Linked DNA regions of Homo sapiens: regions 2, 3, 4 and 5 are each linked to region 1. Evidence: fine-mapped expression QTL. A gene starts in region 1. Each other region holds a variant in brackets. All regions are shown on one strand. Distances are between the middles of the regions.

Region 1 (6,387 bases):
GCTACCCTCCTTATCTTCATATTCATAATAGTAATAATGGAAGGTGTTGACCTAACAAAGTTGGTGTGAGAATCAGATACAAAAAGGAGTAAGATAGGACTCTGAAAAGAGAGGCCCAAGAAAGGCAGTGTGACCAAAACATCCTTACTTTACCCTCAGATCCAGTTATGGAGATGAGCCCAGAAACCTGCCTTTTAACAGCACCCCAGGCATGCTTCAGGCACACCAAGACTTAGAAACCACTCTTTCTACTCTCTAAGTTGGGAATAAAGAAAGGCAGAGAAATTAGGCAAACAGGGGAGCTAAGAGGTGAATTCTTTAAGCCCCCAGCTGCTTTCCCTTGCCCTGTCCTTTAAATAACTCTTCTAGGCTGGATCTGTTCTCAGGGCAACTGTGAGTTGATGGAAATGCTGGCAATACCAAGTACGTTTCACAAACTGAATCTCACTGGAGCAGTGCCCTGAGACCCCACTCCAAATCTCCCATCAGTATGATCAATATCCCACGCTCCACAATTATCTTCTCCCACCCTATAGCAGCCTTTGAAGCCAGGATTCTATGACAATGCTTAAAACAACAAATGTTTTTGGCAAATGACCCTAACAAACATATAAACTTTTTTTTTTTTTTTTTTAAAAGACTGGGTCTCACTTTGTCACCCAGACTGGAGTGGAGTGGTGCAGTCACAGCTTACTGCAACCTCAAACTCCTCAGCTTAAGCAATCTTCTTCGCTGGACTTTTTTTGTTTGTTTGTTTGTTTTTTGATTAACAGTAATACATCTTGAGGCATCACTTAGCTGTCTCCTTGTCAATAGTAAACACTCATTGTTTTACCCAGCAGAAAATGTAGCCACATTCAGCTGCAATATACAGTAGACAACAGGTGATTCTTACCATCAAATCAAATTAACAGAAGCTGGAAAGGAGAACGAGATTTCATCAAATCCATGCCAGAGAGAATAATCCTCAAAATATCCCGCCAATAGGTAGTCCCTTATTTAATCCCTTGGACAATCAAATCCTTGTCTCAACACTCACAGTGATTTATTTTATATATAACCGAATCCTTCCTGCTGTAATTTACAGCATTTTCTTTAGTTCTGACCTTGAGGGAAATAAAGAGCAGATGCTCACACAGCTTTTAATATTTAAAGATCCTTAAGTCACTGCTGAGCTTGTCCTGCCAGTGGAGGTGGCAGGGGACACAGGTTGCTGCTTTGTCGCTTTTTCTGCTTTGCTCTGCTTGGCCTATATTTCTGTTTACAGGAGGCTTGTTCTTATCTGCGTGAATGGAAGACTATGAGTTATTTTCAGGTCAGCACAACTGGAATAACCTGATTTTTTTTTTTTTTTTTTACAAAATCTACAAACAATTGTTGGCTCCTATGAGGGGATTTCGCTTAAACAGATGATATTTAAAAATTACAATCAATTTTTCCTTAATGCTACTTAAAAGTCAGAAATGTAAAAACTTGACTTTTTTAGCTGGTCTTTGATTGCTTTAATCTGATATGACTGAGCTTTGTTGAAGCTTGGTTCCATCGTCACCTAGTATTAAAATCAGACAGTATTTTCCTTCCTTATCTGCAAAATAAGGCCCTCTGAGTCTTAGAGGTAAATTAATAAGTATTTCCAAAACTGCACATGGGACTGAATAGTCTTCCAAAGCAACTCCCAAAATAAAGTTCTTAAAGCACCTCTCAGGTTTATTGTTTCTTTATATTTTGTTGCAAGGTGGGCAAAAAGGGAGTGGCCTGGGCTAAAGTTCTAGTTCTGATTTCGTCCAGCATTTGTGGATCACAGTTGGCAGCTTTATATGTATACAAATATACACATACACACACTCCCTTTGAGAGCTTATTTATACATATAAACTCATTTATATATGTGTGTATGTGTGTGTGTATATATATTTAAGGCAAAAGGAAGAGCACTTAAATCCCGAGTCTGGCAAGTCTCATGCTTGGCCGCGTGTGGTGGCTCATGCCTGTAATCCCAGCACTTTGGGAGGCTGAGGCAAATCACTTGAGGTCAGGAGTTTGAGACCAACCTGGCCAACATGGTGAAACCCTGTCTCTACTACAAATAGAAAAACTAGCCAGGCATGGTGGCATGCGCCTGTAGTCCCAGCTACTCGGGAGGCTGAGGCAGGAGAACCACTTGAACCCAGGAGGTGGAGGTTGCAGTGAGCTGAGATCGTGCCACTGCACTCCAGCCTGGGTGACAGAGCAAGACTCTGTCTAAAAAAAAAAAAAAAGTCTCATACTTAAATCCTGCGTCTGACAACCATATGAGTTTCTGGCAAGATTTAAACTTTCAAAGGCACAATTTTCTTATTGGCTAGATAAGAATAACAATTTTCACCTTGCCAGTTTGTAGTGAAGATTTCAGATAATGAATATAAAGGAACTGGTATAGACCATGGCCCATAGTAGGTGCTCAATAAATACCTTTATAAAGAAACAAACACATTGCAATTCTGATATGACGGCTGCCTTCTTATTTAGAAGACTATTCTGCTTGGTTTTTTTTTTTATTCTAATTTCTTTGGATTTATAAGCATCCCCCACAGCTCTTTCAAACCAAGGATCTTCACAGATAACAGTGTCTAGGGAATCTTTCTCTGTTCTCCTAAAACAAGCACTTATTTTTAATGATGGTCTTATATTCTATAAAAATATTAAAATAACATCTTCATATGTAGTATTATATATGAGGGAAAGAGACATTTGAGCCAGTGTTCACACTTGACCATGTTCACACTTTTAACCAGGTAGAGACTCGTGACTTTGACTCTTATTTTGGCCTTTACTCAGGCTCTGACTGCAGATAAGAATCAGTTTTGCCTAAATTTCAATTGCTTGGGAAAGGTCCTCGATAACGGAAGTCTACATAGAATTGTGAATAAATACCCCTGTGAAAATAAAGGTTAAGTCTATATGTTTACTTGATAAAGCAGATAATTTCAGAGTATAAACACAGTTGTGTTTTGACTTCTCTTCCTTTTGCCTTAAATATAGATATTTATTTGTGTGTGTGTGTATGTGTGTGTATTTATATATATATAAAGTTGCCCACTGTGATCCACCACTGCTGGAGCAAATCCAGAACTAGAACTTGGTCTCCTGGCCTTCAGCCCAGAGCTCATTACAGTCTCATTCTAAAAACAAGTACTTCATACTGATTGCATTTCTACACACACATATGCAGATTTCTGGACACTCTTTCTGTTTTTCTTTCATTTATGTTCTCAATGCTGAACCTTTATTAGAATTACATCATCACTGTGGTTCTTTAAATAAGAAACAAAACTCTGTCACAACATCTGAGGAAATTATCTTTTAATGTCCCCAAGCTCTATGCCTTGGAAAAAAAAAACTTCCTCTGCTGTTCAAGAATAACAGGCCCCAGAACAAGCCCCAAAAATAAATGACAAAGCCCATCTTACTCACAGGAGGAAAGGATCATGGTAGCCCCTTCTGCGGGGAGCACACAACAGTCTTCAGTTCTTCTGCGGTGCTCTACTCACAAAAACACATCTTTCAACTGAAATCATAGTTCGCTCAAGATGTTTCTCACGGGCAGAGTTAACCCCACCTATTTTCCTGTTCTGAAAACCTCAGAAGAGTATAAATGACAACCAATGGCATATATAAGAAAGCTCAGTAATCTCCATCCCAATCTCTGAGGGTATCTGCTATTAGTCTCTCATCCCCAAAGGTGTGGGTGACTCGCAAACATCATTTTCAAGAAATCACAAAATTTTGGTAAAAGGCACCTTTAAAATTATCAAATCAAACTGCCCTCTCTGGACTGGGAAGGAAATGAAGGCACAGACAGAATAAGGGACTTGCCCAAGGCCACACCGTGAGTGGCAGAAACAATTAGATTCTAGGCTCTGGAATATTGAGTTTAGAATGTTCCATCCTCCCACTCAGCAGACACTTTATTTGGGGGAAGTCAATCTAGTAATAACCCTAAAATGTGATTGGGGGATGGCTGAGAAATATAAAAACACCAACAATACAAAACACACTTGGGAGTTTCACTTCATCCCACTGGAAAGCATAACCATGTGTCAACTAATTAACAGAGCAACTTTAATGAAGACACAGCATATTCTAATCGCCCTTCCAATTTCCTGGTTTAGATTAAGGTCTCCTTAGCATTCTGGGTGATGACTGTTATTTTTACTTCACCTTTTGCCTTTGTTATGCTTTCGTATAAAACTTTTTTTCTAAGTCTTAGTGAAAAATATTTAAAGATTTTTGAAGGAAATGTTGACAAATGTTGCCAGGTGCTATCTATCTTGTTTTCCCATAAAAAGCATACACTGACCATTAGGACAGGGACTCTATCTTCTCCTCACTCTCTTTCATACCACCTAGTACTTCCCGTAGCTCCTCAAGGTGAAAAGGGAAGTATGGGATGGGAGGAGGGAAGGTCAGGAAGGAAGGAGAAAAGGCTGACAGTGATAGTAAGGTAGAGTGTGCCAGGACCGACTCCTTCAATGAGCTACAAGTCAGTTAAAAGTTGTGCATGGTTAGCAACCAAAATGCCCATCAATGATAGGCTGGATAAAGAAAATGTGGTACATATACACCGTGGAATATTATGCAGCTATACAGAATGAAATCATGTCCTTTGCAGGGACATGGATGGAACTGGAAGCCGTTATCCTTAGCAAAGTAATGCAGGAACAGAAAACCAAACACCACATGTTCTCACTTATAAGTGGGAACTGAACCATGAAACACATGGACACAGGGAGGGGAACAACACATACTGGGGCCTGTTGGGGAGGGCAGATGAGGGGAGAGCATCAGGAAAAATAGCTAATGCATGCCAGGCTAATATCAGGAAATATATATATCAGGCTAATATCAGGAAAAATAGCTAATGCATACCTAGGTGATGAGTTTTTGATAGGTGCAGCAAACCACCATGGCACACGTTCACCTATGTAACAAAACTGCACATCCTGCACATGTACCCTGGAATGTAAAAAAAAAGTTGTGCCTGTTTTTGTGATGGGGGTACAGTTAAACAGGTAGACAAGAAGGAATGTGGCAGATTGTGATAAGGCTCGGGATAAGCAGTTTACTTTCTTCCATTATGAGGGGCACAGGAAAAGAATAAACACAGCCTTCAGTGGATGGACTGCCTGGTGCACAGACTCTAGACTGACCAGGATGAAATGAAATGGTTCTCCAGGGTCAGAGTGAAGGCGCTGCCCAGAGCAGCCAGCCTGTGTGTTCACCCAATGCTCCAGAGCAGACCATCGTGGCCTGCAGAGGAGACGCAACTCCTGAAGGGAAGGCGCTGTGTCTTCCTCGGCTAGTTACCCCACCAACAGCAAGAATAACGTGTTGGGCAATAAACGGTCTCTGGATGACTGATACAGTTTCTTTTCGCTGGCGCTCACGTGACCGAGATAGTTTCTTTTCCTTGGCGCTCACAAGGCAAAAAGGAAGGCCCTAATTCCGTTGATGTCTTAGTAGAGCTTCTAAGGGTGAGAAATCCACACACACAGTCTTGACAGCAGGGTCTCCTGAGAGGCTGTACAACAATCCCACCATCCAGGAACCCAAGTCCAACCAGGCCTCCTGAAAAACGTCCGGGAGGCACGGAACACCATGCTGGCTGCTTCTCTCCGTAGCTTCCTGGATCCTCCGCCACAGCTCAGGCTGCTTCCGGGTCCTATGTGAGGTGGGGGCAAACTTTGTTGCGAAGGTCACCTGATCCTTCTGCCCCAGAGCTCAGCACTTCCAATTATAGTGTCTGTGTCCCAGGGAATATTCTTAAGGCTTAGAAGTAGATTACCCGGTTTAATTTTCCATCTGATTCTGATTAGCTGCGGCCACCATGGGCAGGATTACATAGGCCAAATGCACGTGGTTAAGCTGGACAGGCATCCCCAGACACATTTACCTGAGTGAGGAGGGGGCGTTACTCATAGAAGAATCTAGACTTTCTTCTCTTCAGGCATATTTGATGTTCAGGGGGAAATGAATTAACAGCTATAAGGCACAGTCTCTAGTCCTAAGAAGGTGAACTCCTATACTACAGGATTAAAAGTTTCAATTAAAAGACAATTCGTGTTTCTCATAAATATATAACTTTATATATTATATATATTTACAATATATACAGCATACAAATATTGTTCATGTAATACTAAGAGCAGTCTTGAAAACTGAGATGTTTTCAAAACAAAAGATAGGTATTTATTTATCCAAGATGGGTTCCTGATGTATCTAGAACCCAATTGTAGACAATGTCTCAGGCCCAGATTTCTGTAGAAGTCAAAGGGAAAAAGAAGGGTTGCTTGGTCATGACTCTAATACCCTTCCCCTTCCCAAATACCCTGGCCTTCAACTGGCATC
Region 2 (6,387 bases), 47 kb after region 1:
TCCTTTTTGCCATGATTGTAAGTTTCCTGAGGCCTCCCGAGTCATTCAGAACTGAGTCAATTAAACCTCTTTTCTTTATAAATTGCCCAGTCTTTGGTATGTCTTTATAGCAGTGTGAGAATGGACTAATACAACAGTTTTGTCAGTCCCCAGTTCCGTCCACACCTTTCCCTATTCCCTTCATGCCTGGCTATGGAAGGTCACACACACAATCCTAACTGCCATCTCTATGCCCAGCCAGGCTTTCGCTGCTGCTCATCAGCCCTTGTGTAGTGAAGAGAACCCAGCGGCCTCAAACTACCAGTGCCCTCAAAACTACAAACTTCCCATTCCCTTTGCCTCGGTGGACTCACTCCCTCTCTGCTTTACAGAGGAGACAGCAGTTATCCAGGGGCACATCCCCAAATTCTTCCTTCTGCAGTTCAAGAAAATGCTAAGATTTTACCCTTTTTGCTTTTCTTTTACCCTGTCTCTAAGAGAAAAGTTAAAAAGACACAATGGTTGAGACACTATCGTTGGCACTGAACACATGTTATCTCATTCTGTGCTCACAATATCCCTGTGAGGTACACATTATTCTCCTCATTTTACAGATGAGGAAACTGCAGCTGAGACAAGTTATGTACATTACCCAGGCCCTGAGCTGAAAGGGTACATTTTGGGTACATTACCCAAAGCCAGCTAGACTGTGAGAGATGCCCGAGATGCAAAGCAGTAAGAGGACTCATGGAGCCAAGTCCCACCATGGACAAAAGGGGTTCTAAGCAGCCTTTCCACCAGAGCAGGGAGAAGGAAGGACATCCTCTCTGGTCATTCTCTGCTAAGGGCTTCTCCCACCCTGCCTACAGACGCATTCAGGGCTCTCCTATCCAAACCGGGAAGCATGCTTTTCACCTGCTGCTACTCTAACCCTTCTCCTCTGTTCCTAAAAGAGAAGACAGTGCACCCTCAGTTTTCATTTCTTTACCACCCACTCCCTCCTTAACCACTTGCATCTGCCTCCCACCTCATAGCCTGCTAAGGCTGTTATCGAAAACATTACTGATGATCAAACCAAACGGTCTTCTCTGAATTGTAAGCCACCTTCTGAGATTTGCAAGTGCTGACACTCTTCTGCGCCCTTAGTGGCCCTGACTTTGGGTTGTCCTGGTTTTCCTTTTCTCCCTTCCCTTCAGTTTCTCACAGGACAACACCTGTCATGTGTCAACAACTGTGTGAAGAATGACAAAAAGACAATAGGACAAGCTCATTTCCTGAGCTTGTAGCCGCAGAATTGGGCCAGGTGCTTTTAATCCTCACAGCTGCTCTGCAAGGTAAGGATTACTACACCCATTTTACTGACAAAGAAACTAAAATTAAGTAATGTGCCCAAGTTTACTTGTGGAACAGACTGACATAGCAACTATCATGTAATGACGTGGGTAGTATATATATATATATATATATATATATATATATATATATTTTTTTTTTTTTTTTTTTTTTTTCAAGACAGAGTCTTGCTGTGTCACCCAGGCTGGAGTGGAGTGCAGTGGTGCAATCATGGCTCACTGCAACCTCTGCCTCCTGGTTTCAAGCAATTATCCTGCCTTAGCCCCCCAAGTAGCTGGGATTCCAGGCGTGTGCCACCACGCCCAGCTAAATTTTGTATTTTTAGTAGAGACAGGGTTTCATCAGGTTGGCCGGGCTGGTCTCAAACTCCTGACCTCAGGTAATCCACCCACCTCGGCCTCCCAAAGTGCTGGGATTACAGGCGTGAGCACTACATATAAAAAAGATGCTAAGAGAGCACAGAGAACAATGGCTTACATTTCAGAAGAGGAATGGCAGGAAGAGAAATCTCAGTGAAATGAACAGTAGATGCAAAGAAAAAACACATTCCACCTGACCTCAGTTTCCTCATCTGTAAAATGGGAATAATAATAGTATCTATTTCCTAGGTTTGTTATGAGAATTAAATGAGTTAATATTTGCAAAGTGCTTAGAAGAATGTCTGGCCCATCTGCATGTATTTAGTAAATAACTGTCTAGCTCTAGGAGCAGCAGGCCATGGTCTGCTTTCAAAACACCCATATCTCCATGTACCACCTGGCCTGGCTTCTAAAAGCAGCTGTCAGATGTGGATAAATAGATATAAGAAAATTTGGGATGACTTGATTTTACTTATGTCCCCTAAATTCATACTCTGTGATATATAATCTCCTAATATCCTGTACGGTTAGGCTGGTGCAAAAGTAATTGTAATTTTTGCCATTAAAAGCAATGGCAAAAGCTGCAATTACTTTTGCACCAACCTAACAATATTTGGACTGACTTTCTCCAAATATCTTGTTATGAAACTAGCAGATACAGGTTCACATGTAAGTTGATCACTCATTCTTTTATTTATTCTGCCAGCAAATACTATGGGACACCAACCCAACTGGGCAACAAGCACCATGCTGAGTGCTGGAGTTTCAAAGTTATGAAAGGAGGGTTGAGGGTCTCTTCAAGAGGATTTCATAATATGATGGGTGGAAGGGGAAGAGGGATGATTCACAGTCTAGTAATGATCAAGCAATGTTCTCTTGTGGTATCCTACAGAGTGGGGCAGTGATGGGGCCACAAGAAGATGGGGAAGATTCAGGAAGGAAGTGATATTTTGATTTTATTTTTAAAGGATAAGTATGAGTTTTCCTACAGAGATAATGGAGAGAGTTTCAGGCTGCAAAACAACAAAGTGCTGAGTATTTAGGGAACAGAAAGAAATTCACTGTGGTTGAAGCTCAGGGTGCTTTAGGAGGCTTGTAGGGAATGACACCAAAGAGGCTGTCTGAGGCCACATTAGGAAGATGCTTCTGCACCAGCCTTACAAGTTTGGATTTATTCTGAGCAGTTTTACATGGAGAATCAGGAGTGCAGTACTGCGGTGTGTTTTTAAAAATATAATGATTAACGGCAGGTGAAGAGTGAGTGTTGACAGGGAGGCTGGCTGGGCAACTGCCGTAATAGTTCAGGTGAGAGATGAAGTTCTAAACCAAGTCAGTGGCAGTAAAGTAAGAAAAGCAAAGACACCAGATAATTTAGAAGGCAGAGTTCACAAAACTTTGTGACCACTTAGATATGGGGATTAAGAGTAGAGAAGGACTGAGGGGGGCTAACGGATTTTGAGTTTGAGTGACCAGGAAACACGGACACCATGAATCATGAGAAGGAACACAGAAGGACAATCAGGTGCGAGGAGGCAGGGCTGGGAAATGTTTGAGTGACAATTGAACAACCAGGTGAAAGTTAAAATATGGGTCCAGAACTCAGAAATGCTTAGCACTGTCTTTATAGATAAAGACAATTCTGCTGCAGAAATGCTTAGCGCCATCTTTATAAAGACAATTCTGCTTTTCACAACACATATACAGTATATATAGTGGCAGCTTATTCTAGCCACATCTGAAGGTAACCCTGGGAGGTTAGGCAGGGCTGCGGAAAAAAAGGATTGGAAGGGCTGGGCACCGTGGTTCACTCCTGTAATCCCAGCACTTTGAGAGGCCAAGGAGGGT[G/A]TATCATGAGGTCAGGAGTTCAAGACCAGCCTGGCCAACATGGTGAAACCCCATCTCTACTAAAAATACAAAAATTAGCCAGACATGGTGGTGCGCACCTGTAGTCCCAGCTACCTGGGAGGCTGAGGCAGGAGAATAGCTTGAACCTGGGAGGCAGAGGTTGCAGTGAGCCGAGATAGTGCCACTGCATTCCAGCCTGGGCAACAGAGTGAGACTCTGTCTCAAAAAAAAAAAAAAAGAAAAAAGAAAAAGAAAAGAATTGGAAGGGATAAAGGATTCACCATAGGGAACAGAGAGTTACTGAGTGAGGCATGCTATCCCATGCACTTTCTCCCCGAGCCCACTTTAACTCCTGACATGCCAGCTTTTTAAAGCTTTTCCACAGTGGGGCCCTTTAGGAATAAAAGCTTTAGGAAATGATTTCTGAGCAGTTACCGTAGAAGGAACTCACAGTTTCTCCTCCATTTAGACTATTCTTTAGAATTTCTTCAGTAAGAAAATACTTCATGATTCATGGCATATGCTATATGCTATTGTTAATATTGTGGCCCATCTGGGTGGAGTTGCTCATGCCTGTAATCCCAGCACTTTAGGAGGCCAAGGCAGGCAGATCACTTGAGGTCAGAAGTTTGAGACCAGCCTGCCCAACATGGGAAAACCCCATCTCTACTAAAGATACAAAAAAATTACCCAGGCTTGGTGGCAAATACCTGTAATCCCAGCTACTCTGGAGGCTGAGGCATGAGAATCTCTTGAACTCAGGAGGTGGAGGTTGCAGTGAGCCAAGATCGCACCACTGCCCTCCAGCCTAGGTGACAGAGCGAGACTCCATCTCAAAAAAAAAAAAAAATTGTGGCCCAAGGGGAAATATCCAAGGTCATTACTTTTTTTTGTGTTATATTTCCTTTCTATTCTATAGCCTTTGCCCTGCTTACTAGACTGAAAATCATGATAAAGCTGAGACTTTCCCTGACTCACCTTTGAATCCTCTATGAATCTGCCGAGCTAAGAAGACCACCTGACACTTAGTGGATACTAATTCAACAGTGTGCTGACCCAGTATGCAAAGGACCATGGGCAATACTCTGTGTGTGTGTGTGTGTGTGTGTGTGTGTGTGTGTCCTCTCTTGCACACTTTGCAAAGCTTGAAAATGGAAGTAAGCAATGACCATTTTATATATTGTAAACCAGCGTATATGGGAAAATGAGGCATTAAGATGAAATATAACTTGCTTTAAACTACACATCAACTGAATGGCAGAACTCGGAGTTAGATGGATGAGATTCTGTCCCCCAGCAAGACTTACAAGGTACACTGTTTTCCTTTAATTTCCAGAATACTCTGTATTTTAATAATACAAATATCCATCCTAATCTAAAGAAATTAAGTGAGAAAAAAATGTATACAAATAACCAGGCTGGTCTCAGGTGATCTGAGAAGTCATTTATCTCAGGACACCCTCTTGTCCTTTTCCCAAGGCATCCAGAGTCCCCACCACACACAGGGAAAGGCTTGCCAGGGTGTCCCTCCAATATTCCAAATGATTCGTCCCTTTCCCACATCACAAATTTTATTCCTGATGTGGCTGTTCCCAGGGTCTTGTGGCAGAGGAAATCTCCTGGGTGAATCATGTCTGCATTGCAAGAGGACCTCAGAGAAGGAGCATGAGCTTTGGAGACAAGCAGATCCTGACTTCTAGCCTCTGCTTTGCCACTTATAAGCCATACGACCTAGGGCAATCCCAGTTTTCTCTCTGTGCTTCAGTTCCTTTCTCCGTAGAAATAGGACAATGCTGCTCTCTTTGCCAAGCTATCAGCAGGATTAAAGATAATGTTCATAGGTGCTTAACAGTGTCTGACACATGGAACTCTGTGATGGTTAATTTCATGTGTCAACTTGAGTAGGCTAAGGGATACTCAGACGGCTGGTAAAACGTTATTTCCAGGTGTCTGTGAAGGTGTTCCTGGAAGAGATTAGCATTTCAATCAGCTGAGTGAGTAAAGAAGATCCACCTCTGCCATCGCAGATGGGCATCATCCAATCCGATGAGGGGGCAAATAGAACAAACAAAGGCAAAGGGAAAGCGAACTCTTTTCTTAAAGCTGGGATGTCCATCTTCTCCTGCTCTCAGACTTTGGTGCTCCTGGCTCTCCAGACTCCAAGGCTTCCACCAGCAGCCTCCTCCCCTACTCCTGGTTCTCAGGCCTTTGGACTTGGTCTGAATTACACAATTAGCTTTTCTGTGTCTCCACATTGCAGATGGCAGATTGTGGGACTTCTCAGCCTCCATAATCTATTGCGTGAGCCCATTTCCATAATAAATCTCCTCATATACATCTATATGTATCCTATTGGTTCTGTTTCTCTAGAGAACCCTGATTAATACAAACTCACTCCCCAAATAGTAGCATATACTGTCAGTTTTCACAGTAACCCTAGGAAGTTGCAGGAAACTGAGCACTGAGAGGCTATGAGACTGGCTAAGGATTGTAGAGGCTGAGCCAGAATTGAACTAAAATCCCTCAAAAACAGTAATGCTTTTACCTGACTCCAGGTCTGTAAAGCTTGAATAGTTATGGACTTTTATTATTAAAAAAAAGAATATTATCATGTCCATAGCTAACAATTATAGAACACTTACTATAAACCAGCAATACATTAGCCTCTTAATGTGGATAATCTCAGTGAATCCTCACAGCATTATAACATGAGAATTACTGTCACCCCCATTTTGCAGATGGAGAAATCAATACATAGAGAGTATAATTAACTTGCCCAAAGTCACACAATAATCCAGGATTTGAACTTTAATTCCAATCCTGAATTTGTAAGTGCCACCTATACCTAAGT
Region 3 (6,387 bases), 750 kb after region 1:
ATTCGCCGTCTTGCTCTGCCCTCCTACCACATTTTTTAATTAAGATTTTATAGAAAAGCAGAACTGCTATCAATGATATAGAGTAAGGGATTTATTACAGGGATTAGACCTTAGGCAACAGCTGATGGATCAGCATTCAGGCTATTGCTTTTGTATCTAGTATTGGGCATGTTTTTCTTATGGCCATGATAGAGACAGAAATGGAAACAGAAAAGGCCTCTTTAAGCCTAAATTTGGAACTTCAGCACACCTTCATTTTGGGCTTATATTTTGCCTAAAGTCATATCCACAAGCTGAAGGTCAAGAAGATAGGTAAATATGCCCCTGTTCACAGTAGGAAGGTAATGCAAAATTGCATGACAAAAGGCATGGGTATAGGAGAGGTAAGTATTAATAATTAGGGCCAGTAACAATCTACTATGCAATCTAATTATGTATTCTTAAATTTCAGTAATAGTAGTAGTAGTAATAACTAACATCCATTGAGTGGTTACTCTGAGCCAGGCACTATTCTAAGTAATTTGTAAGTATCAGCCCATTTAATTCTCTTGAGAAACCTATCAGGTAAGTCTAATATTATTTCCATTTTACAGATGAGGAAACTGAGTCCTGGAGCAGATAAATAATAACCCAAAGTCAAGTAGATAGTAAGTGGTGAAGCCTGGATTTGAAGCACAGGGCCTGATGCAGAGCCTCTCTTGCTAACAGTTCCGGTCCCTAAAGCAAAAATTATAATAATCCTGCCCTTTTCTGAACTGGTCAATCCATTTTTGGAGTTTTTGTGTATGAGGACACCACAGGCCGAAAGCTATCCCAAGACCAGGTTGTGACAGGGTTGGAAACCCACTCCAATGGTAAATAAAACTAGGGCCCTTTAGCCAAATTCCAGGAAGCATGCTTTCCAGTATTTCAATGCTATTTTGTAAAAGAGGAATGAGAATTGTATTTTGTAGCCACCGGCAAATTACAGGTTTAAGCTGAAAAGCATTTATGAAATGCCCATCTCTGCAAGTATGCTGCTTGAGGATTCAGAGATAAGAAAAAATGAGTACACTGTCTATCTTGGAGGAATTTCCAGTTTAGAACAGGAGGGAAGCAAACTTGGGCTCCCCATAAGACTTTCTGAAGAATTTAACAGCTGGGCAGTGTACTGGGCTGCATTGTTGAGCAGTAGGTGTCCTTCCCTCGGAAGTATGTATGTGGGGGGTCCTGAAATCTCACCTCCTGGGACAGTACGGAGGAGACTTCCACAGTGAGTGCTGCCGGTTGTGGGGGGGCGGGGTTGGGGTTGGATTGGATCCCAAGCCAAGAACTGGTGATGAGAATATAAGCTCCAGGAGGATGAGATTTTTGTTGGTTGTATTCACTGCTATATTCCTAGGACCTAGGACAGTTCCTAGTACAGAATGAGTGCTCAATATTTAAATATATGAAAGAATGTGAATATTTTAAAACCGGGAGATTTCACATAAAAACCTGCATTTGCTTGCACTGAATATTGAACAAGTGGAAGATTTGGCAACAGTGGGCTTATCTATTTTTGTGTACGGAAGTGAAGAATACACCTTTGTTTAATATGCCACTAGCTCAGCTTCACTCAATTACATTGTCCGTCTGGTCCTGTTCTTTGCAGCCTCTGAGTTAATCACTGAAATCTCTGCCAACTCCAAGTGTCTACAAAACTGAATTTTATAGTTGAAATTTGGGAGCAGAGTTCCAAAATGGAGAGGTTTTCTGTCAATTAACAGTTTGCATTGTTTGAATATCAAGAAAATTGCCTACACAACATTTGCATTACATTTCATTACTTAATCAAATCATTCAAGATACATTTTTATTGCTATTACTTAATCAAATCACGCAAGATACATTTTTATTACTTTCATAATGTTAAACTAGACAAACCATTCTGACAGCAAAGGAAGAGAATATCTTTGTTTAAATGAGAATTTTAAAATATATAATAAGCATTATATACAGTATATTATATGCTACATATTTATATATGTAATAATATACAGTATAATATCTATAACATATGAGTCTTTCTGGAAACTGATCTATTTTAATAAGAGAAACAAACACAAAAGGATTATTCCACTATTTTTTAAATTATAAAACATACATTTCATTAGAATACAGTTTATAGTAATAACTTTTGAACTCCAGGATCACACAAACTGAGGCAAAATTTAGAACAAATGATCACCATAGCTAATGGTGGAATGTTTGGTTAATGCCTTTGAAACTAAAAATATCTTGAAAGCATCCTTTCTAGTCATCCACTTGTATGTAAGCCAAGAAAGAAACACACTTCTAGGCATCACTGGAGTGCCATGGAGGTGCATGGAATTAAGGAAATCATTTTGATCTTTTCTGGTCGAGTAAGGATCTTCCTTATTTTCATTAGTGTCATTACCCGCTGTTAAAAACATTTTATTATGTTGTCTAGAGGAACTACAAATGTGTTAGACAAGGTTTGCTGATTTCAGATATCAAGTTTGTCTCTTCTTACAGGTGCATCCGTGGACAAACTAATGTTACATTTTAAATTCCATTAATCAAATTCAAAATAATGGGAAGGTTTGCATTCTCGTCACTGTAGAATATCAGTCCATATCATCCTAGGGAAAGTTTGCCAATAAAATTGGTTAGACATCCAACTTTTACTACCGTGTAGTCTCATCAGTTCTTTCTTTCACGTGAGTCTATCTACGATTTTATCTTGCTGTTCTTTTCCAAGTTTTTTTCTTTTTTTTTTTTTATCATGAAGGTACTGCTTTCATAAGCTTGTGACCAGCTTTGTGATGAGTGTTGGTAATGGTGAAATGTCAAAAGGCAGGTGCTGTTCCTTTAACACAAGAAACAGACATTCTCCCCCAGGTACTAGCTTTCTAATATGTACAATAGATAGGCAGCTGGGTGCGGTGCCTCATGCCTGTAATCCTAGCACTTTGGGAGGCTGAGGCAGGTGGAACCCTTGAGGTCAGGAGTTTGAGACCAGCCTGGCCAACATGGTGAAACCTTGTCTCCACTAAAAATGCCAAAAATTTAGCCAGCCGTGGTGGTGCATGCCTGTAATCTCAGCTACTGAGGAGTCTGAGACAGGAGAATCACTTGAACCTGGGAGGCAGAGGTTGCAGTGAGTCAAGATTGTGCCACTGAAGTCCACCTGGGCGACAGACAAGCAAAACAAAACAAAACAAACGAACAAGAAACCCAAAAAAATAGCAGCAGAATAATCAAAGCCTCTTGGATGAACTTCCAGTTTTTTCCTTATTGATTTTCTTTCACTCTAAGATAGATCGTCATGATAAACTGCTTCAATGAATAACTTCTCTACGTAGGAAATGTAGAAAGCCCAAGCA[A/G]TAAACCCAATTTGATTGAGAAGAACTATGAAGATGTCATCTGTAAAAACAATGCTCCTTTCAACAATAATAAATGTATTGGCCAGGTGCAGTGGCTCACCCCAGTGGCCCAGCACTTTGGGAGGCTGAGGCAGGTGGATCACGAGGTCAGGAGATGGAGACTATCCTGGCTAATACGGTGAAACCCCATCTCTACTAAAAATACAAAAACTTAGCCAGGCTTGGGGGCGGGTGACTATAGTCCCAGTTACTTAAGAGGCTGAGGTAGGAGAATGGCATGAACCCGGGAGGCAGTTGGCCGAGATCGCACCACTGCACTCCAGCCTGGGTGACAGAGCAAGACTCCGTCTCAAAAAAATAAAAAAAAAATAAAAATAAAAATAAAAATAAATAAAATAAATGTATCTTTCCCCAGTACCTTGGGATAGATTTTTTACATTGACTTGCTGTGCTAAGCAATGTGAAATGTTCTGATCCCTAGGAAATCATTTTCTGGGGAGTAGGAAATAAATGTGCCCAATTCTGAATTTTTGCCAATAGCTGAGATAACAAAGAGTCACCAACTGCTAGTTATCAGAGACAAGAGTTAAACTTGCATTTAAGATGATAGGATATTGGCTTTGCATTCTGATTTACAGAAATAAAACTTTATGGACTGAAAAAATAGCATACGTAATATAAAAAGAGGCTTACTCTTAATGTTCATGTAAAAATTAAAACTTCTGTATAATTTGATGTTTAAAATAAAATATTTCATGTAAACGATTAACTTTTAATGAAGTTTCTCTTTTAACTTCCATGATACATGTTCAAGATGTATTAAGTAAAACCCAAATGTGTACATACACAAACCTCTTATATATCTATCTATCTATGTATCTATCTATGTATCTATCTATCTATCTATCTATCATCTATCTATCTATCTATATATATATATATTTTTTTTTTGAGATAGAGTCTCGCTCTGTCACCCAGGCTGGAGTGCAGTGGCACAATCTCTGCTCGCTGCAACTTCCATCTCCCGGGTTCAAGCAATTCTCCTGCCTTAGCCTCCTGAGTACCTGCGACTACAGGCATGTGCCACCACACCGGGCTATTTTTGCATTTTTAGTAGAGGTGGGGTTTCATCATATTGGCCAGGCTGGTCTCAAACTCCTGACCTCAAGTGATCTACCTACCTTAGCCTCCCAAAGTGCTGGGATTACAGGTGTGAGCCACTGCACCTTGCCTATATATTGATATAAATGATGATACATATATAAAGCATTCTTCTGAGAAGTTGCAAAGATGCAAGAGTAGTTTTTCTGTAGGGCTCAGACAACCTGTCATACATAAAACAAAAGGTTCCCACATGGAAGGGTTTCTTTTTTTTTCCTTTCTTTCTTAATTTTTTTTTTTTTTTTTAGACAGAGTCTCACTCTGTTGCCCAGAGTGGAGTGCAGTGGCACTATCTTGGCTCACTGCAACCTCCACCTCTCCAATTCAAGAGATTCTCGTGCCTCAGTCTCCCCAGTAGCTGGGATTACAGGCATGCACCACCATGCCCGATTAATTTTTGTATTTTTAGTAGAGACAGCATTTTACCATGTTGGCCAGGCTGGTCTCAAACTCCTCCAGTGATCTGCCCGCCTTGGCCTCCCAAAGTGTTAGGATTACAGGTGTGAGCCACTGCACTTGGCCAGATTTTGTTATTGTTGTTTTCATGCAACAAATCTGACAGGAGAATAGGAGTCCAACCCCTGGAGTTGCATTGGCTGCCTCTGAACTCCCTAGAATTCTAAATTTATCATTCCATGTATTAATTATTCCAGTGATTCCTCCCATAAATAAGTTGTTCCTTGGGGAAAATGAGAGACAATTTGGGAAGTTGTGTTTCTTGTTTCAGGCCACTAGTAGTATATGAAAGAACCCCATTCTTGAGGGCTGCCCATAAGCATGTGCCCATTTGCTAAGCAGATAACCTAAAGACAAAGAGGCCAGGCATGGTGGCTCACACCTATAATTCTAGCACTTTGGGAGGCAGAGGTAGGTGGATTGCTTGAGCTCAGGAGTTCAACACCAGTCTGGGAAACATGGCAAAACCCCCCCTCTACAAAAACTACAAAAATAGTGGGCATGATGGCACACACCTGTAATCCCAGCTACTTGGGAGGGTGAGGTGGGAGGGTGGCTTGAACCTGGGAGGTCGAAGCTGCAGTGAGCTATGATCATGCCATTGCACTCCAGTCTGGGTGACAGAGCAAGACCCTGTCTCAAAACAAAAACAAAAACCAAAACAAAAACCAAAACAAAAACCAAAACAAAAACAAAAACAAAAACAAAAAAAGACAATGGTCACTTCCAAAACTCCACTGTTGAACCATACTGTTGAACCATAAGGTCACCTGGAGCACTGAAAGGATAGTTGATTCATATTTTGACCCTTTCCAACAAAACACTTTTCACTAAGTTAAAAATGTTGCCCCTACATTTTAGGAAGCCCTTCTCATACCTGTAAGTCAGTCTTGTCCTGTTTCTATCTCCATACACATTAATTTTCTTGGGGTCATGACTTCCTAACTTCTTCAACATTAATTCCAATTCTCTATCAGATAACTTAAAACACTGAAAAAAAAAGCAGAGTAAAAGAAAGAATAGAGGCTAATCTGAGAAGACTTAATTCTCTTATTTAGCTGTAAGCAAGTTGGGGTGGGGGTGCAATGTCATTTGTGTGTGTGTGAGGATTCCTAACATGTTGTGTGTGTGTGTGTGTGTGTGTGTGTGTGTGTGTGTGTGTGTGTGTGTGATGGAGTCTAGCTCTGGCACCCAGGCTGGAGTGCAGTGGCACAATCTCTGCTCGCTGCAACTTTCGCCTCCTGGGTTCAAGTGATTCTCCTGCCTCAGCCTCCCTCTCAGTAGCTGGGATTACAGGCATGTGCCACCACGCCTGGCTAATTTTTATATTTTTAGCAGAGATGGGGTTTCACCATGTTGGCCAAGCTGGTCATGAACTCCTGACCTCAAATGATCTGCCTGC
Region 4 (6,387 bases), 28 kb before region 1:
TGATCAAAATACAAACACATGGACAAAACAGGAACATACCCTTCTACCGCGATTGCCTCTAGGGAATGAGAGAGGACCAAAAAGATGAAGGGGGTGGGCTTCAACTGTATCTGTAATGTTTTATTTATTTTTAAAATGTCATGGCCAAGTTTTAATATTTGCCATATCTGGGTTGCGGGCCTGTGCGTATAATTCCCTGTTCAAGTCTCTGAAAAGAGATAAGACCCTTGCCTTGTCTGGCTTCTTGTCAGATGCAGAAGCTCTTATACTGAATCTGCACAGCCCAGTGATTTGGGCCATATTACCTGTGACCAGTGTGATAACTGTGGACCTCCTCTGGGACTTTCCTTCTCTCGTTCTGCCCACCTGTCATAAAATTTTTTTTCTCCGTGTTGGACCTATTAATGTCACCTTACAAAAGGCCATTTGCTGTGACCATACCAGGAAAATAGCATATTTTCTGCCACACTCAGTTTCCTCCAAGCAAGTGAGGCCTGTCCAACCTCCATCCGTGGTCACCTGAGGATGGGCCTGTGTCCCTCATTCTCTGCCTATAGCCCCTGCTATGAAGTAGGTCTTCATTGTACCCTGAGCCATTACTGGCATTGAGTTTTGAGTTACAGAACTGATTATTTCTCATTCGCATTTCTAGATTTCCTCAATATCCAACAGCAGAGCAAAATGACACACATACTCTTACCTAGTTTCTAGTTCTGACTCTACTTTTACCCACAGTTAATGTTTACTGACAGTTGGAAATTTAAACTATAGGCAGCTTTGTGTTGGTTTGACCTAAATGAGCAGTTTTGATCTCAGTTTCATATTTTGGCTATTCTACTCTTTCCTTTGTTTCCAAAGAACAAAGAAACTGCAGCAGCATGTATTTTTCTTTGTTTGTGTTTTTAATGAGTCTAACCTAAGTTCCTGAGGATCAAGTTTATACTTGACTGCCTTTGATGCAAAGGTTATAATGAGCAACTCAAATACAGGACTCCAGACTGGGCGTGGTGGCTCACACCTGTAATCTCAGCACTTTGGGAGGCCAAGCCGGGCTGATCACTTGAGCTCAGTAGTTCAAGACCAGTTGGGCAGCATGGCAAAACCCTGTCTCTATAAAAAATACAAAGAAACTAGCCAGGCATGGTGGCATACCTGTAGTCCCAGCTACTCAGAGGGCTGAGGTGGGAGGATAGCTTTAAGCCCAGGAGGTCAAGACTTCAGTCAGCTGTGATCGAGCCACTGCACTTCAGCCTGGGTGACAGAGCGAGAGCATGTCTCAAAATATATATATATATATTATATATTATATTATATATAATATATATTTTATATATATAATATATAATATAATATATAATATATATAATATATAATATAATATATAATATATATAATATATAATATAATATATAATATATATAATATATAATATAATATATAATATATATAATATATAATATTATATATAATATATATAATATATAATATTATATATAATATATATAATATATAATATTATATATAATATATATAATATATAATATTATATATTATATATATAATATATAATATTATATATTATATATATAATATATAATATTATATATTATATATATTTTATATATATAATATATAATATATATATATAATATATATATTATATATATATATAGAGAGAGAGAGAGAGAGAGAGTCCATTGGCAGAATGCACCTTGGAGTGAATGCAGGAGTCTGCCTATGTTGGAGCTGAAAGCCTTTCAGGAGAAACGTATTTCTGAAATTATAATGAAAGTTGATGGAAAACATGATCTAATACAAATATATCTGATTTACAACTTCACATAAAATATATAGTTGGGATGTAATGATATTTTAGAACTAGAAAAGACAAGAAATAATATACTTTTTTAGTTGGTTAAAGTCTTTATAAGTACTTCTCAGAGATTTTGAAAATGTCCACAAATACATTGAATTACCTCTTGTCTCAATAGATGTTCTGCCTGATTTCTGGTAATGTTTCTATGGTACCACCTGTAAAAGCAATAAAAATGATTTTTAAATTTTATATTCAATTTTTTTAAGAAAAAAGTGCTTCATTTTCTTCATTTTTAAGAACTTACTTCAGAACTGAGCTTAGAAAGTTGAGTGTTTTTTTAAATTCAGATAAACAATAATATACTATTGTGGGTTAATTAAGTTTAAAATAATTTTATTTTCAAATCAATATCTAGTTTATTCTATCATATCTCAATTCAGCTTCCAATATACACTTAGTATATCATTATGAATGATTTAACTTCTTATAAATTTCCATGAAAGGTATGTGGTAAATCATCTTGAACAAACACTGAGTTTTGGCAGACAAACTGAAAAAATACTCATTTCTGTCTTTCCTCTCAGAAACTTCCTATTTACATGTTTTTATAGGTGCTTTGTTACCCCTTCCAAAAATTAAAGCCCATTCTTACTTTTCTGACACTCCTAAGTATATTACGTCATAGTATAGTCAGTAGTTAGTAGATGTTCTCACTTACAAGTGGGAGATAACAGGGGGAACACATAGCCATAGAGATGGAAATAATGGACACTGGGAACTCCCAAAGCAGGGAGGATGGAAGTGGGGGTGAGAGTTGGAAAATGACTTATTGGATAAAATGTTCACTATTTGGGTGATGGGTACACCAGAAACCCAATACCCACCATTACACAATATACTGTTGATAAAAAAAAACTTGCATGTGTACCCTCTAGATCTAATATAAAATTTTTAAAAAATCAAAAAACAGAATACATGGAACAACCAATACATGAACTTGCCTCTAACACCCTCTCCCGCCTCATCTCTCTCCTGAGTCTCCCCTCACTCACTAAGCTTCAGTCTCATTGGAATTATTTCCTTCCTCAGATTCACCAACCCCTTTTCTGCCCCCAATCATGCTGTTTTTCTCTGCATGAAACATGTAGTTAAATGACTTTAGAATATCAGAAGTACACACAGTAAACATAATTAACTAATACTGTAAGCTAAACATACAGTTTGATATGGTAATACCTAGTCAGTAAGCAAATGTTGTACAGGAAGGAGAAAGAAAAAATGGTAGAACAAAAGAGAGAGAAAGGAAAACTGAAAGGCTTTCATTTCAAAACAAGACTTTAAAAAAATTTTAATGCTTCATGAATTTGTGTGTCATCCTTGCACAGGGAACATGCTAATCTTCTCTGTATTGTTCCAATTTTTAGTATATGTGCTGCCGAAGCAAGCACTCAAAAACAAGATTTTTAAGAAGGTTTTAAACTTAATCTAATATTGCCAGATAGAAGTATGTGACAAATTCAAGATCTTTTAAAATAATTCAGAATTCTATCAGGCAGGAAAGAGATTGAACGAATGGAACTTAGAGGAGGCAAGAGCACAGTATTTCAGAATTTCATCTATTTAAATCAGATTATAAAAGTTAGAAGGGTTTTTTTTTTTTAATATGTAAGTAAAACTGTAACTCTTAGACAACTCTTAGACCTAGACAACATTGATTACAACTAAGACCAAATGATGTGTATGAAGGAGTTAGGGACAGGAATCCTATGAACATTTTTTTTTAAATCCAGCACGTCCAGCTATGGGTGAGTAGAAACATCCTGTATGTTATGTGAACACCTCTGGTCTCATGTCCCAATCTTAGATTTCTATAAGTAAACAGTATTGTGTTCTTGAATTTTTGATCTAGAAACCCCATTAGATCTGAGAATGTAAATCTGCTTCTCTTAGTAAATGACTTTCTAACTGTGAGAAGATTAAGGATTCCGTGTACAGATAATGAGATAAATGAAACTCATGCTTCTGTAAAGTTCAGGAATAATCAATATGTTTGGTATTTAAAAT[A/G]TCTATTATTTTAAGAGAATCTGGCATATTAGATATTTGCCTCTGATTTAAAAGGCATAATTAATTTTAAACTTGTTATCCGAAGTTGAAGATAATTTGACTTGTTTTTAAAATGATATTTGTACAGTTAAAAGAACTTGATTTCCCACATTTATAAGTTTAGTTTATTAGATTTCCAGGATCATTTAAAGACTTGCATAGGGCTTATTACAATTGTAAATTTGCCCTGTCAGGCATGTGAAGTACTTTGGAAGAAAACTGAATTTATTCAGTTTATTAATGCAAATTAAAAGTTTCCAAAAATTTAATTAACTGAGCTTATAAATAGGACTGATTGTTTAAGGATATCTAGTATGTTGAGTTTGAATTAAGCTGATTGTTCTTACTTCTTTAGATTTATATATAGTATACCAAATTTTATAAGTTGAATTTGAGGACTTTCTGAAAACTAGGTTTTTCCATTGTAATATTGATAATTCGGATATTCATTTAAAGTAGCCATAAATCTTTCTATGCACAAAGGTTCCTCTGAAATATCAGAACTCCACATTGACACAGCATTCCTTCCACCATACCCCACCCTCCCCCCAAAACACACACTACCTGCTACCACCTTTAGACCTCAAGTCACTTCCTCAGAGCCAACCCAACATCCCCCATCTGAATTACATCCCCTGCCCTGTTTTCTTCCACAGCGTCCAATACTGTTCCTTCAAAACACTACAGTTTATTTTATTTTTTTTCTTCAACTTTTATTTTAAGTTCCGGGGTACATGTACAGGATATTCAGGTTTGTTACATAGGTAGATGTGTGCCACAGTGGTTTGCTGCACAGATCAACTCATCGCCTAGGATTAAGCCCAGCATCCATTAGCTCTTCTTCCTGATGCTCTCCCTCCCCTTGCCGCCCTCGCCCCAACCCCCGCCCCAGGCTCCAGTGTATCATAACACTACGATTTAAAATTGTACATTTATGGGCCGGGCGCGGTGGCTCACGCCTGTAATCCCAGCACTTTGGGAGGTAGAGGCGGGCGGATCACGGGGTTAGGAGATTGAGACCATCCTGGCTAACACCGTGAAACTCTGTCTCTACTTAAAAAAAAAAAAAAAAAAAAAAAAAACCGGGCGTGGTGGCGGGCGCCTGTAGTCCCAGCTACTCAGGAGGCTGAGGCAGGAGAATGGCGTGAACCCAGGAGGCAGAGCTTGCAGTGAGCCGAGATCACGACACTGCACTCCAGCCTGGGTGACAGAGCGAGACTCTGTCTCAAAAATAAATAAATAAATAAATAAAATTGTACATTTATTTGTGGACTTAGGGTTGTTTAATGTCTGTTTTTCCCCAAGAACTGTAAGTTCCATAACTGTATATTTCAGGTTGTTATATCTGGTACATCGTAAGTGTACAATAAATACAGATGGAACAAATAAGGTGATTTGAGGACTGAAGTAACGAAGGAGTGTTGAATGCCTGTAAATACCAGGCATGGTAGCCCAAACTGTAAATGTTTTTCCTGTTAGTTTCATAGTTCATGAAATAATAATAATCACTAGAATGTATTGAACATGTATTATGTAACAGATAGAATAGATACTATTTTCTCTGCTTTTCAGATCATTCAGAAGTTTAGAGACATTAGGTAACTCTGCCCAGAACCAAAGCACTAGTCAGTGCTGATGCCAGGATTTGGACCCAGGTTGTTCCCATTTCTATACACATGCTCTAGTACTTCAACCTAGGGCAGTAACTTTCGTACAGTCATTAGAACAGTGCTTGGCACATAGTGATCAATAAATTTCAGTGATCAATAATGATAGCTATTTTATCTACATATTAATAAAGCTGTTTTTAAAAACAGCAATAAAATGAAAAATGAGTTTTCTCATAATTGGAGTCATTTTAAAAAGGATGATTTTTTAAAAAAACACATATATAAATCAAGGCCCAAGGAAATGAGGTAGCAGTTGTAGCCCCAGAGTAGTTTAATTCAGATGATCCAACATCCACAGTATAAACAGGCTGTTATAGCCAGAGCCTAGGCCTTGTCTAAACAGGGTAATCAATGAGCAAATTAATGAATAATGAAAGGGTGGAAAGTAACATTCCTAGGTAGTGAGTGTCCATTCACTAACCACCAGGCACTGTGTTAGCTACTTTCACAAATGTCTCCTTTAATCGCTTGTAAAATCCAAATTATATGAAAAAAAGTCTCATTTTTCTAATTTTTCTGAGCAAGAGATTTTCATATAATATCTGTAAATACATACAAAATCTCTGACCTGGCTTTGCAAGAGGCCTGTTTTTGTTGGTCAGCTTCAGCTCAGGATAGCAGTGAGACCTCATGAGGACATGCTCTTGAGTAGATAGCTGTGGAACTGCTTTTTTTTTTTTTCTGTCCTTTTTTTATAGAGATAGGGTCTCACCATGTTGCCCAGGATGGTCTTGAACTCCTGAGCTCAAGCAATTCTCCCACCTCAGTCTCCCAAAGTGCTACGGTTACAGGCATGAA
Region 5 (6,387 bases), 190 kb after region 1:
TTTCCCAATGATTCTTTTCTTTTTCCTTTTTTTTTTTTTTTTTTGAGATGGAGTCTCACTCTGTCACCCAGGCTGGAGTACAGTGGTGCAATCTTGGCTCACTGCAACCTCCACCTCCCAGGTTCAAGCAATTCTTCCACCTCAGCCTCCCGAGTAGCTGAGATTACAGGCATGAACCACTACGCCTGGCTAATTTTTTGTACTTTTAATAGAGACGGGGTTTCACCATGTTGGCCAGGCTGGTCTCGAACTCCTGACCTCAAGTGATCCGCATGCCTCAGCTTCCCAAAGTGCTGGGATTACAGGCATGAGCCCCTGCGCCTGGCCTATCATGGGTCTTTGCTGAGAAACCTTACTTGAGGTCTATAGCTATATCAGTATATTGTATTTACATCTCTATATGAAACAGAGCATTTCAGCTCATTAATACTCCATAATTGTGAATGAAAATTAAATAGCAAGTTTCAAGCTGGTAGGGAACCTATGGCAATGCTTGAAGAGGAGGGGATCAAATAAAACGTGGACTTGTGAGGGAAATCCACTTTAAGATAATTCAGGTTGAATTCAGAGATTTTAATATTTGTAGTAATCTATCACATCCACACTCTTCAGGGAAGGTCTGAGAGTTGAATATTGCTTAGAAGGAAGGGAAAGTTGAGAGTAGAGAAATGCTGTTCCACCTCTGTTGCATGCACTTAAAAGAGAGAATTTATAAATGGCAGATTTTGATTACTTTGCTATTCTATTTTAGCTTCTATTTTTTGTCACTTTTATTACACTTTCTTCTCTTTTATTGTAGTATCTGATTATTTTATACATGATAACTATGGACAGCAGAATTTTTTACAAACTTATTTCCTGAAACTAAAATGGTAACCATTTTAGAGAATGCTTGGGGATATCTAGTTAATTTGAAGATGCACATGTAACCCAGAAATTGTACCTGTAAGTATATATCCTAGAGAAACTCTTGCATATATGCACAAGGAGACATATACAAGTATGTACTTACAACATTGTTGGTTGTGTCTTCTATTAATAGAAGAATGAACAAATTAATTGTGGTCTATTTATTGAAGAGTATACCATACAGTAGTGAAAAAGAATGAGCTAGGCCTACATGTATTAACATGGGTGAATCTTGAAAACATAATGCTGAGGGAAAAAGAAGATTGGATAAGAATACCAATAATAGTATAACAGCATTTGAAACAGTGTGGCATAGTCATGCAGATGTGCTGGTGTCAGACTTCCCTGGTTCAAACGTGCCCCCACTATTTACTATCAGTAAGACCCAGGCAAGTCTCTAACCTCGACTGGCCTCCAATTTTTTATCTGTAAAGTGGGGATAATATTTTCCACATCTTATAGTTACTGTGAAAATTACAATAAGTTAGTACTAAAGTACTAACAGGAGTACATAGCACCATCATTTTTATGTATATTGTATAAGAATGTGCACATGTTGGTAAAAGTACATACAAATAAATGATTGAGAATGATAAACACAAATTCAGGATAGTGGTTATCTCCTGGAAAAGGAATATTTCTTGATCTGTGGTGGCTACATGATGGGTTTGTTGTTATTCTTCTTATGCCTTTGTGTACGACTGAACTATTTTATGATAAAATTTATGGGCCGGGTGCAGTGGCTCACGCCTGTAATCCCAGCACTTTGGGAAGCCAAGGTAGGAAGATCACAAGGTCAGGAGTTTGAGACCAGCCTGGCCAACATAGTGAAACCCCCGTCTCTACTAAAAATACAAAAATTAGTTGGGCGTGGTGGCACACACCTGTAATTCCAGGGAGGCTGAGGTTTCAGTAAGCTGAGATCGTGCCACTGCACTCTAGCCTGGGCGACAAGAGCAAAACATTGCAAAAAAAAAAAGTGTATATATATATATTTTTTAAATATCTGTATATTTATATATATTTTTTATATATAGATATAGATGTAGATTTTTTTTTTGAGACAGAGCCTCACTCTGTCACCCAGGCTGGAGTGCAGTGGCAGTATCTCCACTCACTGCAACCTCCACCTCCTGGGTTCCTGGGTTCAAGTGATTCTCCTGCCTCAGCCTCCCGAGTAGCTGAGATTACAGGCATGCACCACTACACCCCGCTAATTTTTTGTATTTTTAGTAGAGATAGGGTTTCACCATGTTGGCCAGGCTGGTAACTCCTGACTTCAAGTGATCTACCTGCCTCGGCCTCCCATCGTGCTGGGATTACAGGCGTGAGCCACTGCACACCTGGTCTATTTTATGATAAAATTTAAATCGAATGAAATTTATTCTTAAAACTATAAATACAGTGTAACCAAATTTCTGAGAAATTGGAAACTAGAGGAAAAACTCCAAATTATACCATCTTATCCCACAATTTTAAAAATTAAGTAATTCTTCCAACAACTGAGTGACATTGGTGAATGAAAATGTTATTTTTGCAGCATTCTTCATAATAGCCAAAACATGGAATCAACCCAAATGGCCACCGACAGGAGAAGGGATAAACACAATGTGGTATATCCACACAGTGGAATACAATTCAGCAATAAAAGAGGAATGAGATGGTGATATATGCTACAACTTCAATGAAATTCAAAATCATGCTCAGTAAAAGGAGCCAGACACAAAAGACCACATATTGTATGATTCTATTTGCATGAAATTTCTAGAGAAGGCAAATCTGAGGAAGCAAAGAGTAGATTAGTGGTTGCCTAGGGCTTGGGAAGGAACAAGGAGTAACTGCAAATAAGCATGAAGAATTTGGTGGGAAGACAGAAATATTCTACAACTTAGTGACTGTGTTGATTACAGAACTTTGCATATTTACTCAAACTAATTGAATTATACACTTAAAAGGGTGAATATTATGGTATATAATATATGTCAATAAAGCTATTTTAAAAAGCAGTCTTGGCCAGGCACAGTGGCTCATGCCTATAATCCCAGCATTTTGGGAGGCCAAGGTGGGCGGATCGCTTGAGGCCAGGAGTTTGAGACCAGCCTGAGCAGCATGGTGAAACCCCATCTCTACAAAAAAATTCAAAAATTAGCCAGGTGTAGTGGCAGGCACCTGTGGTCCCACCTACTTGGGAGGCTGAGGTGGGAGATCGCCTGACCCCAGGAGGTTAAGGTTGCAGTAAGCCAAGTTCATACCACTAAACTCCAGCCAGGGCAACAGCGCAAGACCCTGTCTCAAAAAAAAAAAAAAAAAGAAAGAAAGAAAAAGAAAAACCCTCTTAAAAATAGAATAAACATTTATGCTTGGGTGGGAAGGGAACATTATTTCCATTTATAGGCATGAACACGGAAGGATATGATCCTGAGAAAGAACCCAGAATCCTACTCCCTATGTCAGCAGAAACTCCTTTCTGTCAGGGTATCTGTGAGAAGGCCACCTTGGAGTAAGACATTTACCAATGTGGAATTGCCACAGT[TA/T]AAAAAAAAAAAAAAAGTAGTGGTGGTACTGTTGGCTGAGGGAAAGCCTGAGATGGTGCTCCTAGTTCTTCATGACCTGTGCATGGTTTACAGGAGATTCAGAAGTTCCTGTATGCCCTGATTTGGGGAGGGTGAGCACCAAGCCTGAGAGAGTGAACTGAAAGAAGCCTGGAGATTGAGATTCTGGAACCACGTATCATATATATGTCGATGACCCCCAAATTATATCTCCAACTTAAATCTTGTACCTAACTCTAGGCTTCCATCTCCAATGGCCAACTGGGTGTCTACTCTTGCACAGAAAGATCAAAGTAAACAAAGCTCCAAATGGTATTCTTCATTTCTTCAGCCCTAAATCTCTTCCACCCCACCACTCTCCCTGATGGCCACCCTCTCTCCTCTCCACCCCTCACCCATATCCACTGTCCCAGTCTCCTCAGCATGGAATCTACTTTCTCTATCACCACTGATATGGACAGGAGACAGGGAAATACTGGGCAGAGGAGGGCATTCATTTCCCTGGCAAAGGCCCCACCCTCAAACCTGGAGACCTGCAGTCCTAAGAGGGAACAGGCATTTTTGCTTTCATGCCTAGAAAGTTAGCTTTTGGCCTGCCACACCCCCCTATCCTGTACCCATGTAAACCCCAAACCCCAGACTCCAGAAGCAGATGAGGAGATGGGGAGATGAGGAGACAAGCAGACGAATGCCATGGCAGAGAAAGAGACAAGAGAAGGAACATCTGAATGCCAACAGGAGCTCATCTGGGGGTGGTCAGAGAGGAGTTCGGCCGCTGGATGGCCAAAACTCTAAGGGAAGGTCATCTTCCCACTCCATTTCCCTTCCAGTTACCCATCCATGCCACTGAGAGCCACCTCCACCACTCAATAAAACCCTGCATTCATCCTTCAAGCCCATATGTGACCCAATTCTTCTGGGATGTTGGGCAAGAGCTTAGGATACAGAAAGCTGTCACACTGGTCTCCTCCTTGAGAAAAGGCAGAGGGTACACTGAGCTCGTTAACACTTAAGCTGTCTGCAGATGGCAAGGCTAAGAAAGCGTTATAACACTGAGGCCGCAGGCACCCACCCCTAGACACTACCATGGAGCTGGAGCCCAAAGCACTTTCCCCATTCCTGCACCTGCCCATAAGCATGCTCCGCCTCTTGTCAGGGGTTTGAGCAGTGGTGGAGACCAAATGGGCGAGCCACACCCCTGTCGCACATTCTGCAAGGGGAATCAGGGAATTCTCCCGTTTCACCTTTGCCACCACCTATTCTTGGCCACCATCATCTCTCCCCTGGACGAAGCAACAACCTTTTAACTGGCCTGCTTCCACTTTTGCTTTCCTCCAATCTATCCTCCACACAAAAGCAAAGCTCATTGCAAATTGGGTCTTGTCACTCAAGTGCTTAAAACTCTTCAACAGCTTCTCATTGTACACACAATAAATCCAAACTCTTCACCTTGGTCTGTAAGGCCCTGAATAATCTGGTCCCCACCTAATTCCCAATTCCCTACAGCACCAAATGGCATTCTTCCCCTTACTTACTACATTTACTTATGCTTGTTCTTTTCTCAATCTTCACAATTCCCTAAGCTAACATCTCAAGAGTTTGGCATGCACTGTTTCTTCAATTGGTACCAATCCTTCACCTTCTCATCTTGCAGACTTCAGTTTAAATGCCACTCCCTCAAAGTCACCTTCCCCACTCATTCTATCTAAGGAAGCTTTCCTCTTTACTCTCCGCCTTCATTCTTCATTTGTTTTCTTCATAGCACTTCTCATTCTTAGCAGCTATTATGTATTGGTTTACATATTGTTTATACCACTTCCCTTACAAAAATTGAAATTCTATGAACCATGTGCTGTTCACTATTGTAGCTTCAGCATCCAGCATAATACCTGGAATGCTGCAGCTGCTTAACAAATGTTTGATGAATGAAAGCACTTAGAAAACCACACAGATATTTCCCCCTATTGTCCAATTTTCAGAAAGAAACAGATTTTGTTGGCCATATCAGGGCAGTTTTGATTATAAGTAACAGAACACCACCTAAGCCTAAATAAAAGAGAGTTTTTTTTTTTTTTTTTTTGAGAGGGAGTCTCGCTCTGTCACCTAGGCTGGAGTGCAGTGGCGCCATCTGGGCTCAATGCAGCCTCTGCCTCCCGGGTTCAAGCAATTCTCCTGCCTCAGCCTCCTGAGTAGCTGGGACTACAGGCACGTGCCACCATGCCCGGCTAATTTTTGTATTTTTAGTAGAGACGGCGTTTCACCATGTTGGCCAGGATGATCTCGATCTCCTGACCTCGTGATCTGCCTACCTCGGCTTCCAAAAGTGCTGGGATTACAGGTGTGAGTGCCCAGCCCAAGAGAGATTTTAATATGCAGACACATGGTTCTCCCAGGAAGCTGAAGGGCAAAAGCATAGGTATGTCTTGGAAAGAACTCAAAGCAGGAATTAGTGCAAGGTAGAGAACTCAAGGATTTTGCCCTACTTGCAAGCTATCAAGTTAGCCTGCCTCAAGTTTCATGGCAGAAGACACAAGATTCCTGCATTAGAGACAAAGGACAATGTATCACTCATAGCAATAGTACCCAGAGTATCAGCATTTGCTCTGGTTCCCACAAGGAGACATGAATAAAGCCAGGTGGGGCTTATACACCCAGTGGGTTGTGTTACCAGTGAGAAACTCCGAGCTTAGGGAACCCAAATCTTTATAATTGTCAGTAAGTACCTGACCTTTGCTCAGAAGGGAAACATTACCTTTATCTTTATATTGGATAGTAAATAAATCTGCTGTTTGCTGCACAGGGAGAAATTATCTCTGTTCCAAAACTGTTTGCTGTGTAAACATCCCTGAAATGATATTGCAGAACAAGAGTAGCCAGTGTCACATCACAAGATGTGCAGAAATGCAAGAGATCCATGGAGAAATGT

Direction of the effects. Positions count from the first base shown, and alleles are read on the strand shown. Sizes are in standard deviations (SD) of each study's normalised expression. Not every link is listed here.
With allele T in place of TA in region 5, the expression in prefrontal cortex of the gene that starts at base 3,549 in region 1 is lower (small effect, 0.38 SD a copy in CommonMind).

What was found. PIP is the estimated chance that this variant, and not a neighbour inherited with it, causes the effect.
Region 2: its variant is the best candidate, but not a certain one, in a credible set for the expression of TXK in T cells (TOPMed, PIP 0.55).
Region 3: its variant is the best candidate, but not a certain one, in a credible set for the expression of TXK in whole blood (TOPMed, PIP 0.68).
Region 4: its variant is the best candidate, but not a certain one, in a credible set for the expression of TXK in blood mononuclear cells (TOPMed, PIP 0.81).
Region 5: its variant is the best candidate, but not a certain one, in a credible set for the expression of TXK in prefrontal cortex (CommonMind, PIP 0.69).

Annotation. Positions count from the first base shown.
Region 1 is chr4:48,130,702-48,137,088 of GRCh38, forward strand. TXK (TXK tyrosine kinase) reads right to left here and starts at 3,549. Exons shown (of 15, transcript NM_003328.3): 1 at 3,454-3,549. The coding sequence starts at 3,469. TEC (tec protein tyrosine kinase) reads right to left here. Exons shown (of 18, transcript NM_003215.3): 18 at 5,082-6,387. RefSeq lists a silencer at 2,991-3,285.
Region 2 is chr4:48,177,914-48,184,300 of GRCh38, forward strand. All of the region lies in intron 2 of TEC (tec protein tyrosine kinase), which reads right to left. Among named protein-coding and RNA genes, the nearest start is that of TXK, 47 kb to the left of the region's middle. The variant G/A (reference allele first, on the strand shown) is at 3,537.
Region 3 is chr4:48,878,851-48,885,237 of GRCh38, forward strand. OCIAD2 (OCIA domain containing 2) reads right to left here. Exons shown (of 7, transcript NM_001014446.3): 7 at 6,169-6,387. Among named protein-coding and RNA genes, the nearest start is that of OCIAD1-AS1, 22 kb to the left of the region's middle. The variant A/G (reference allele first, on the strand shown) is at 3,369.
Region 4 is chr4:48,102,925-48,109,311 of GRCh38, forward strand. TXK (TXK tyrosine kinase) reads right to left here. Exons shown (of 15, transcript NM_003328.3): 6 at 1,977-2,031. It also overlaps the pseudogene RNU6-838P. Among named protein-coding and RNA genes, the nearest start is that of TXK, 28 kb to the right of the region's middle. The variant A/G (reference allele first, on the strand shown) is at 3,881.
Region 5 is chr4:48,323,186-48,329,572 of GRCh38, forward strand. No RefSeq gene overlaps it. Among named protein-coding and RNA genes, the nearest start is that of SLAIN2, 15 kb to the right of the region's middle. The variant TA/T (reference allele first, on the strand shown) is at 3,443.